Linked DNA regions of Homo sapiens: region 2 is linked to region 1. A link means that fine-mapping ties the variant in region 1 to the expression of a gene that starts in the linked region. Tissue or cell type: macrophages after interferon gamma. Region 1 holds a variant in brackets; the other region holds the start of a gene. All regions are shown on one strand. Distances are from middle to middle.

Region 1 (4,401 bases):
AATATATAAATATACATAAATACATAAAGTTATATTTATATAAATATATAAATATATATTAATATATATAGTTATATTTATATCAATATATGTAAATATATATAAATATATAGTTATATATATATTCTCTGTGACATGTGAATTTTTATAGCATTTTACCCCCAGTAGAACTTCTTTCAAAGTTGGAGCCAATCCTCGTAAACCCTGTCATTCTTTATCAACTAAGTTGACGTAATACGCTAAATCTTGTCTTGTCATTTCAGCAGCGTTTGTATCATCTTTACCAGGAGTAGATTGCATCCCAAGAAACCAACTTTCTTTGCTCATCCATAAAAAGTAACTTCTCATCCATTCAAGCTTTCTCATGAGACTGTAGCAATTTGGTCACACCTTCAGGCTTCACTTCTAGTTCTCTTGTTACTTCCATCCCATCTGCAGTTATTCCCTTCAATTAAGTCTCAAGCTCTTCAAAGTCATCCATGAGGATTGGAATCAACTTTCTTAAAACTCTGGTTTATGTTGATATTTTGACCTCCTTCCATGAATCACCAATGTTCTTAATGGCATCTAAAATGGTGAATCCTTTCCAAAAGTTTTTCAATTTACTTATCCCAGACCCATCAGAGAAATTACTATTTATGGCAGCTATTGCCTTACAAAATGTATTTCTTAAATAATAAAACTTGAAAGTTGAAATTAACCCCTTGATTCATAGGCCGCAGAATGGACGTTGTGTTAGCAGGCATGATAACAACATTTATCCACTTATACATCTCTATCAGAGCTGTTGGTTGACCAGGTGCATTGTCAATGAGCAGCCATATTTTTAAAAGAATCTTTTTTCCAAGAAGTAAGTCTTGACAGTGGACTTAAAATATTCAGTAAATCATGCTGTAAATAGATGTGAGGTCATCCATTGTGTTTAAATAAAATTTAAAACAATAAAATCTCATTGAGCACAGGCAGAGCAGATTTCTTAAGGCCCTTAGGATTTTCAGAATGGTAAATGAACACTTCAGTTTAAAATCACCAGTTGCCTTAGCTCCTAACCAGAGAGTCAGCCTGTGCTTTGAAGCTTCAAAGCCAGGCACTGACTTCTCTCTAGCTATGATAGTCCTTGATGGCATCTTCTTCCAAATTAAGACTGTTTTGTCTACACTGAAAATTTGTTTAGAGTAGTCACCTTTATCAATGATCTTAACTAGACCTTCTGTATAACTTGCTGAGTCTTCTGCATCAGCTTTTGCTGCTTCACCTTGTACTTTTATGTTATAGAGAAAGTTTCTTTCCTTAAACCTCATGAATCAACCTCTGGTAGCTTCCAAATTTTCTTCTGCAGCTTCTTCACCTCTTTCAGCCTTCACAGAATTGAAGATTAGGGCCTTTGTCTGGCTTAAGCTTTGGCTTAAGGGAATGTTGTGTCTAGTTTGATCTATCCAGATCTCCAAAGCTTTCTGCATATGCTGTTTCTTATCATTATTCATATCACTTTCTTATCATTAATGTGTTCAATGGAATAACATTTTTAATTTCCTTTGCATTAACAATGTTAATTTTCTTTGCATTAGCAGTGTTGCTAACTGACTGGTGCAAGAGAATGAGTTTTGGCCTATCTGTTTTTGGCATAACTTCCTCACTAAAAATCATTTGTAGCTTTTGATTTAAAGTGGGAGATGTACAACTATTCCCTTCACTTGGACACTTAGAAGCCATTGTAGGGTTATTAATTGGCTTAATTTTAATATCGTTGTATCTCAGGCAATAAAGAAGCCCAAGGAGACAGGGAGAGATGGGAGAACGGTCAGTCAGTGGAGCAGTCACAATATACATAACGTTTATCAATTAAGTTCACAGTTTTATATGGGAGTGGTTCATGGTACCCCCAAACAGTTATAATAGTAACATCAAAGATCACTGATCACAGGTCACCATAACAGATATAATAATAATGAAAACATCTGAAATATTGCAAGAATTACCCAAATGTGACACAGAAACATGAAGTGACCACATGCTGTTGGAGAAATGGTGCTGATAGACTTGCTTGAAGCAGAGCTGCCACAAATCTCCCGTTTGTAAAAAAAAAAAAAAAAAAAAAATGCAGTACACGATCAAGTGAATCACAATAAAATGAGATATGCATGTACTTTCCTGGGAGAGTAACTGGGTTTGTGGCAGACATTTAAGGATTTATAGACTTTTTAAAGATAGAGGATGCTTGGACCATGAGGCTTTAGGGAGAGAAGCAGGACACTAAAGTGGATTAAGTTTCATAAAATAGAGTCCCATTGGGTGCTCTGGTTAATTTCATGTAGGATTTGCTTTGCATTTTTAGAAGAGGACTGTTACAGATTTGACATTGTGTGTGGGGTCTGGGGGACTCTGAGGCAAGGCTGCATTCCCATGAAGTATAGATTTAAAAACAGGATTGCTGGGGAGGAGAGAAATTTTAATTCAGTCAATGCATTAATAGATTGAGGGTGGTAAGATTTCTGGTCATCTTAGGGAGGCCAGACGAAAGCTGAAATCTTATGAGTAATACTGAGCCATATTTTAAGAGGAAGACATATACGATAGAAAGTAACCAAGAAAACAAAACCGTGTTATAGAAAAGA[T/C]GGCTGAAGGACCTGGGAATATTTACCCAGGCTCCAGAAAGAAAGCTCAAGGTGACATGATTACCAGCTTTTAATATTCAAAAGCTTGTCACTTGGAAGAGGGATTGCACTTACTCAGAAAGGCCTCAAGCCAGACCTAGGATCACTAGGCGGGAGTTACAGAAAGACAACTTTTAATTCACTGCATAGAGTAGGCAATTCAAATAGAGATGTCTGAGGATGGGATAAACTGAGTTCATGGACTGGTTCAAAAAAGGAATTCAAGCATACATTGGCAGGAATATTATAGAAGTGTGGTGGTGCATGTAGTAGTTAAGACATAGAGATAAAACTGGGTTCCAATTTTAATTCTTCCACTTACTAAATATGGGACCTATGGCAAGTTGCTTAATTTTTCTGCTTCAATTTCATAATTTTTAAAATGCAGTTAATATCCACTGCAGAAATGTTGGCAATAATTAAAACAATTAACTTTTGTCCTTAGTGTCTAAAGAGAGACAGGTAGGGGTGTGTGTGTGTGTGTGTGTGTGTTGCACATACATGCAACATTTCTGGTTTCTCCTAACCTGAAGTGTTATGATTCCAAAGGCTTTGGGAAAGAAAAGTTTTAAAAAACTAGCTATCCTTCTGCATTTCTTAGATAGTCCCCAGTATTTTGATATGTCCTTAAAGCCTTTGAAAGTGCTCCAGTTTCTTTTTTTTTTTTTTGAGATGGAGTCAGTCTCAACTCTGTTGCCCAGGCTGGAGTGCAGTGCATGATTAAGCTCACTACAACTTCCACCTCCCAGATTCAAGTAATTCTCCTGCCTCAGCCTTCTGAGTAACTGGGATTACATGTACATGCCACCACACCCAGCTAATTTTTGTAATTTTAGTAGAGACCAGGTTTTGGTATGTTGGCCAGGCTGGTCTCGAACTCCAGACCTCATGTGACCCGTCCACCTCAGCTTCCCATAGTGCTGGGATTACAGGCGTGAGCCACCACACTCGCCATGTTCCAGTTTCTTATAAAATTGTTTTAATATGGTATTTCCCCATCAAAAATTCAGTTTAAAGCAGATAGAAAATATTTGATGCTCATCTTAATGCTACCCAGAACTGAGAAACGCCTCTCAATTTGCTTGTACAGAATGAGGTATGAGGATTTTTTTTACAGAGGAGTGGAAAAGACAGAGAACGATGAGCAATGACAATTCAGTTCCCTAGTTAACAGCATGATTTGATTGTGTTTACATATGAGACTTGTGTTTGGGGACCTCTGAGCCTTGTGCACGTTTATCAAATTGCAAACAGCACCACTTATGTGCTGCCTATGATAAAGCACTACCACACAGCCGAATAGCTCTCCCAGCAGAAGATGATTATTTCCCAAGATAAAAGCTGACTACCTGACCTACCTGATGCCAAAGCAATTCATCAATTCAGTGACAAAGAAAAAAAAATTAGAACAACCACTCCTTTGGTGTAATGCAGAGGAAACAATCGGTTGATTGACTGTGACTGAATTTTGGCTGCAAACACAGCCAAAGCAAACCTAAAACAGTATGAGATATTCCTCAGAATTTCCATTATAATGTAATTGTTTCTGCTCAACTTTGTTTTCCAATTTGCTCCCACATTAACTGTAGGGGTAGAAGTTAAGTGGTCAATCATCATTAAGGGAACTAGATTTGTTTGCTAACAAAAATTGTGGTATACATTTTGAATTTGATGTCACTGGGTAGTTTTTCAATGCAAACTTACGTGGCGGGGAACTATTTTGTTTGTAACGGAAGAAATACTATCC
Region 2 (4,401 bases), 480 kb before region 1:
GTCTATTAGTCTTATTAGTGAAAATAAGCTTCCCATACCTAGCTAGCACCATATATTTTTCTAGGGGAAAAGATTTTTTAGAAGAGAGGGCAAAATTATTTCCCTTAAAAACTCTTTATATGGATGTCATCACGTGAAAAGACATATATAAAAGTGAAAGTTTAAGTCATGGGGCAAATCAGGTTATTTCTGAGTGTGAAAAGAAGGGCTACTAATAATTTCGCTGGGCAGTGGCATAAAATAGGCTTGTTCCGGGTAAACTGATCCATACGGTTTTCCAGTGAATAAGCCAAATTCAGTTTTGGGCGCTAGTATGGTTTCAGCAAGAATGGAATACAGGATCCTCAGGAAAAATAAAAAGGGCCCTTAAACTCAGCCCTGTTAAACTTCATCAAGATTCTATTCTGGCATGAAAACTACAGTGGTTAATGACAGGTCTAAAATAATACTTACTCAGTGCATGGTACACAGGTTTATGTAATCCCTGAAGTCTTATAGATGCCATAGCAGCAAGTTTGCCAGGTGGCTGCATTTTCCCATCTAAGAGATACCATATTCTAGCAAAAGTGGCCCATTGCTTGGGGGGGAAAAAAAAAAAAAAGAAGAGGAAAAAATAAAGATAATTATCATTAAAATGGAAATACAGTAATTAAATTTATTATCATATATCATCACGTTTCTACAATTAATGTCAACAATTTCTTTGAAAAATAACTCTATTGCTAAAGAATTTTTGTTTTCATTTCTATTTCTGGAAAAGGGTTGTTTTTTCTAATCATTCTGCAAAGACAAACACAGTAATTATTCCTTCCTGGTTTCCTGTTAGCAATATGACTTACGTTTTGTTATAAATATCCCAAAGATATATTTCCCTTTACGGTATGACTTTTTTTTTTTTTTTTGTATAACACATAATAGAATCTGGAGGGGCAATGAGAAGCTTGTAAGAAAGTAGAAGCTGTTTATGAAGGTCTTCAAAAACATTTAGAGATTATTAGGTACATTATATTGAAAGCTGAGTGGCCAACTGGAAACTGAAGACGATTCAGGAGTTCAATTCCTGGGGAGAGTTAAATAGAACAATGTAGTTGGGAAAGTACAGATGGGTGATGTGGAATAAATTTCAACTTTAAAAAGTTGCCTGAAATAGGTATCTTTAGGTTGCCTCAGGAATAGAGCATTGTTTTTACAGTCGTCATCAATGTATTCAAATTCTTAGAAAATTCTAGGCCAGAAAGATCTCCACCAGATGCTTTCTCTATGCATATACACAAGAGGCTAAACAATGCTGGAAAAATAGAACGAGGCTAGCTGGTCTTATTTTAAATTTACTTATCACAACCTCAAACTAGTCTACATATAAGAAAAAGGCCAGTTTTTGTCCCCATCCATTGTAGACTAATAGTTTGATACTTAGAAAAAAAAAATTTTTAATGAAAAAAATACAAATGCTGGGCGATGTCAGATTGCTGAAAAAGGTTTTAAAATTTTTATTTTACTTCCTGTATTTATCTCATCACAGACAGGCAACAAACAGCCCAAGGAAGGAACCATACTTGGAGCGGCACTGAGTTGAGAGTCATCTTAGACCGATATAACCCAAACTAACTCCTATTCTTCCACCTGAAACCTGGTTCAATCTCAGCCTTCCCTATCTCAGTTGATGACACACCCTCCAGTTGGACAAACCAAAAAACCTTGGGGTAATCCTTGTTTCTTCTTTTGCTGTTGGCCTATACTCAATATTCAGGAAGTCCTACTGGCTCCACCTTCAAACAAAACCTGACCACTTTCAACACACTCCATAGTATTTCTAGCGTGGCCTCTGCACCATCACGTCTCGCCTGGATTACTGTAACACCCTCCAAACATATTCTTTGCTTCTGTCCTCTACTAACCCCTATTTCTGAACAGTCTATTCTCGACCCAGCAGCCAGAGTGCTCCTTTTGACACCAGGTCAGATCCTGTTACTCCGTGGATCAAAACCCTCCAAAAGGTCCCCATTTTACTCAGTCAAAAAACAAATTATTGCAAGGGCCTACAATGCCCTATGTGATCCACCTTATTACCTCTCCGATCTGCTCTAATCCTCTTCCCCCCGCCCCCCCAAGAAAGACATGAAAAGGGCAGATTGAAAAGAAGAGGGGACGAGTAACAGACGAACGACATTAAGTGCTTGCCAGACTGACGACCCTCTTGTGCTTTCCCAAGTCACCTCTTGGCCGAGGGTCTCGGCTTCCCTGCCGCCCCAGCTTCACTACTTAATCTGCCGGAACCAACGCTCTCCTTCTGCCAGTATAATGAACCCCATCAAGCCATAAGAGTCCGAGCTCACCTGGGGCGCCCTAGAGAAACTCGACATATTCCTCTACTAGCAGGACCGTACGTCCTTCTCCTAGTAGCCACGCCGGGTCACTCAGCCTTACTGGCCCGGCGGGAAACGCTAACACCCAAGCAGGACAGTTCCTAGCCCGTCGAGCACTTGTCGGCTTCTCCCTCTTCCTCGAGTTTCCTCCAGTCTTCTCCACGGCAGCAATTTCGTCATGAAAGGAGCATATAATGCAGTTATTTAGGGAATAACTCCCAAAAATATCTCGCTTGGTGGAAAAACTGCGGAAAACCGACGGAGGACATAATTTCCAGCCGACCTAAACGAAGGGAACCGGAAATGCGTCATAGCGCGCGTCTGTTTGGATGTGGAAGCCGAGACCTAAAGTTGGGGGGTGATCTCTGAGGAGATGGATCGGTACCTGCTGCTGGTGATCTGGGGGGAAGGAAAATTCCCGTCGGCGGCCAGTAGGGAGGCAGAACATGGGCCAGAGGTGTCGTCGGGTGAGGGTACTGAGAATCAGCCGGGTAAGCGCTGGGATGAGAAAGAGCGGGAACGGCTTGTGGAGAGGGGAAGAAGTTTGAGTTTTGTGATCAAGTTCTGCTGAAGAGGGATCAATATGTAGTTGTCCCACGAAGCTGGGACTCTATCTGGGATAGAGTTAATGAGGGCTGCAAAAATAGCATCTTCATGGAAAAACAGGGACAAATTTGTGGATGCAAGATTCCAGCCCTTAGAAGTTCTTGGCATAGTAAATGTTTAACTTAATAAATTTTCTATGCCTTAGTAATGGAATTTCCTGCTTTTTGGAAATATATGCATTTATTATTTCTGCTCCTGTGTTTCACATGCAAATAATACGGAAAGGAGCAAGATGGACAAAGATCTTGCTGTCCTACAATTTACATCTAATGGGAGGAGACATCCCACATATAACCTAAGTTTTAAAAACAAATGATGAATTTTAAATGATTTTAATTGTTTGCGATTGCACTGCTTTTTGGTGCACCCGTCTAGATTCAATATTGCATTTTATGTGTTCATTTGTTTCGATCAAACAGGCATTTTGAGGAGTAAATGTATGTGGTTGTGTATAAGGTATTGTCACAGAATTTCCCTTCTCTTTAAAATTATTCTTTTGAGGGGAATTTTGCATTCGTGCTAACTGACTGGCATGTACAGATCGGGAGCCTTTTCTATTTTCTCTGATTGCTTTAGATTTTCTGTATCAAAACTTGAACAGATCTTGAGCAGCGTTTAGTACTTTTATGTACAACCTACTGGTCTTGAGAGTCTCTGATGGTGAAATTGGACTAAGTTAGATTATGTAAATCTAGAGCCCTTTGAGTTAGTCTATCTTTTCTTTTTCAGACTTCACAGCAGCAAATGTTTATCACCTCTTGAAAAGAAGCATTAGTGCTTCAATTAATCCAGAAGATAGTACTTTCCCTGGTAAGTATAATAAACTCCTCTTTTCTCTGGCACAGCATTTGTACTGGAAATTAACTTAATTAATTTGGACCCTAAGGAGTACAAGGAAATACTTCTTGACTGTGTACAAGGCACTGAGTTACAGAGATAACTAAGGGAGTACAAAACTGAAAAATAAATTACCCCTTTCTTCTAGATGCTTGAATATAGTAAAGTTATGAAAATTATTCTAGGTTCTCAGCTTGAATTTTGCTCCTTTTATGAAATTTTCTTGCCTATCTTAGTTCTGTATAACTAAGGGGAGTGTGGCTTTATGAGGATGATTTTATCATGAGTAAAAATATGTAAAGCTCCCACACGGATTTCCTTACCATTTATTTATTTATTTATTTCTGTTCTTAATTACCTATTTCTGTTCTGATTCTCTTAAAAGTACTTAATAATTACTAAACACGATGAGCTTTTCTCAGTTCTTATCTGCTTTGACTTTTTGAAGTATTTCGCTTTTTTGACCAACCGTACTTTGTAAAAATCTTTCCTCCTTTAGCTTCTACTGGCATTATACAAATGCATTTACTGACTTTGATAGTTATCTTTTCTTTTATTCCTGCTTCTTGTCCTTTACTGGAGAATGTCCTTT

Alleles and levels. Alleles are on the strand shown, and positions count from the first base shown. SD is a standard deviation of normalised expression in the study named.
For the expression in macrophages after interferon gamma of the gene that starts at base 2,419 in region 2, C is the low allele of the variant in region 1 and T is the other (large effect, 1.1 SD a copy in Alasoo 2018).

What was found. PIP is the estimated chance that this variant, and not a neighbour inherited with it, causes the effect. A credible set is the group of variants that fine-mapping cannot tell apart.
Region 2: it holds the start of MRPL13, and the variant in region 1 is the best candidate, but not a certain one, in a credible set for the expression of MRPL13 in macrophages after interferon gamma (Alasoo 2018, PIP 0.62).

What each region holds. Positions count from the first base shown.
Region 1 is chr8:120,920,621-120,925,021 of GRCh38, forward strand. No RefSeq gene overlaps it. Among named protein-coding and RNA genes, the nearest start is that of SNTB1, 110 kb to the left of the region's middle. The variant T/C (reference allele first, on the strand shown) is at 2,616.
Region 2 is chr8:120,442,732-120,447,132 of GRCh38, forward strand. It overlaps MRPL13 (mitochondrial ribosomal protein L13), which reads right to left and starts at 2,419. Exons shown (of 7, transcript NM_014078.6): 1 at 2,337-2,419; 2 at 454-577. The coding sequence starts at 2,363. MTBP (MDM2 binding protein) reads left to right here and starts at 2,688. Exons shown (of 22, transcript NM_022045.5): 1 at 2,688-2,857; 2 at 3,702-3,782. The coding sequence starts at 2,740. RefSeq lists an enhancer at 2,147-2,326.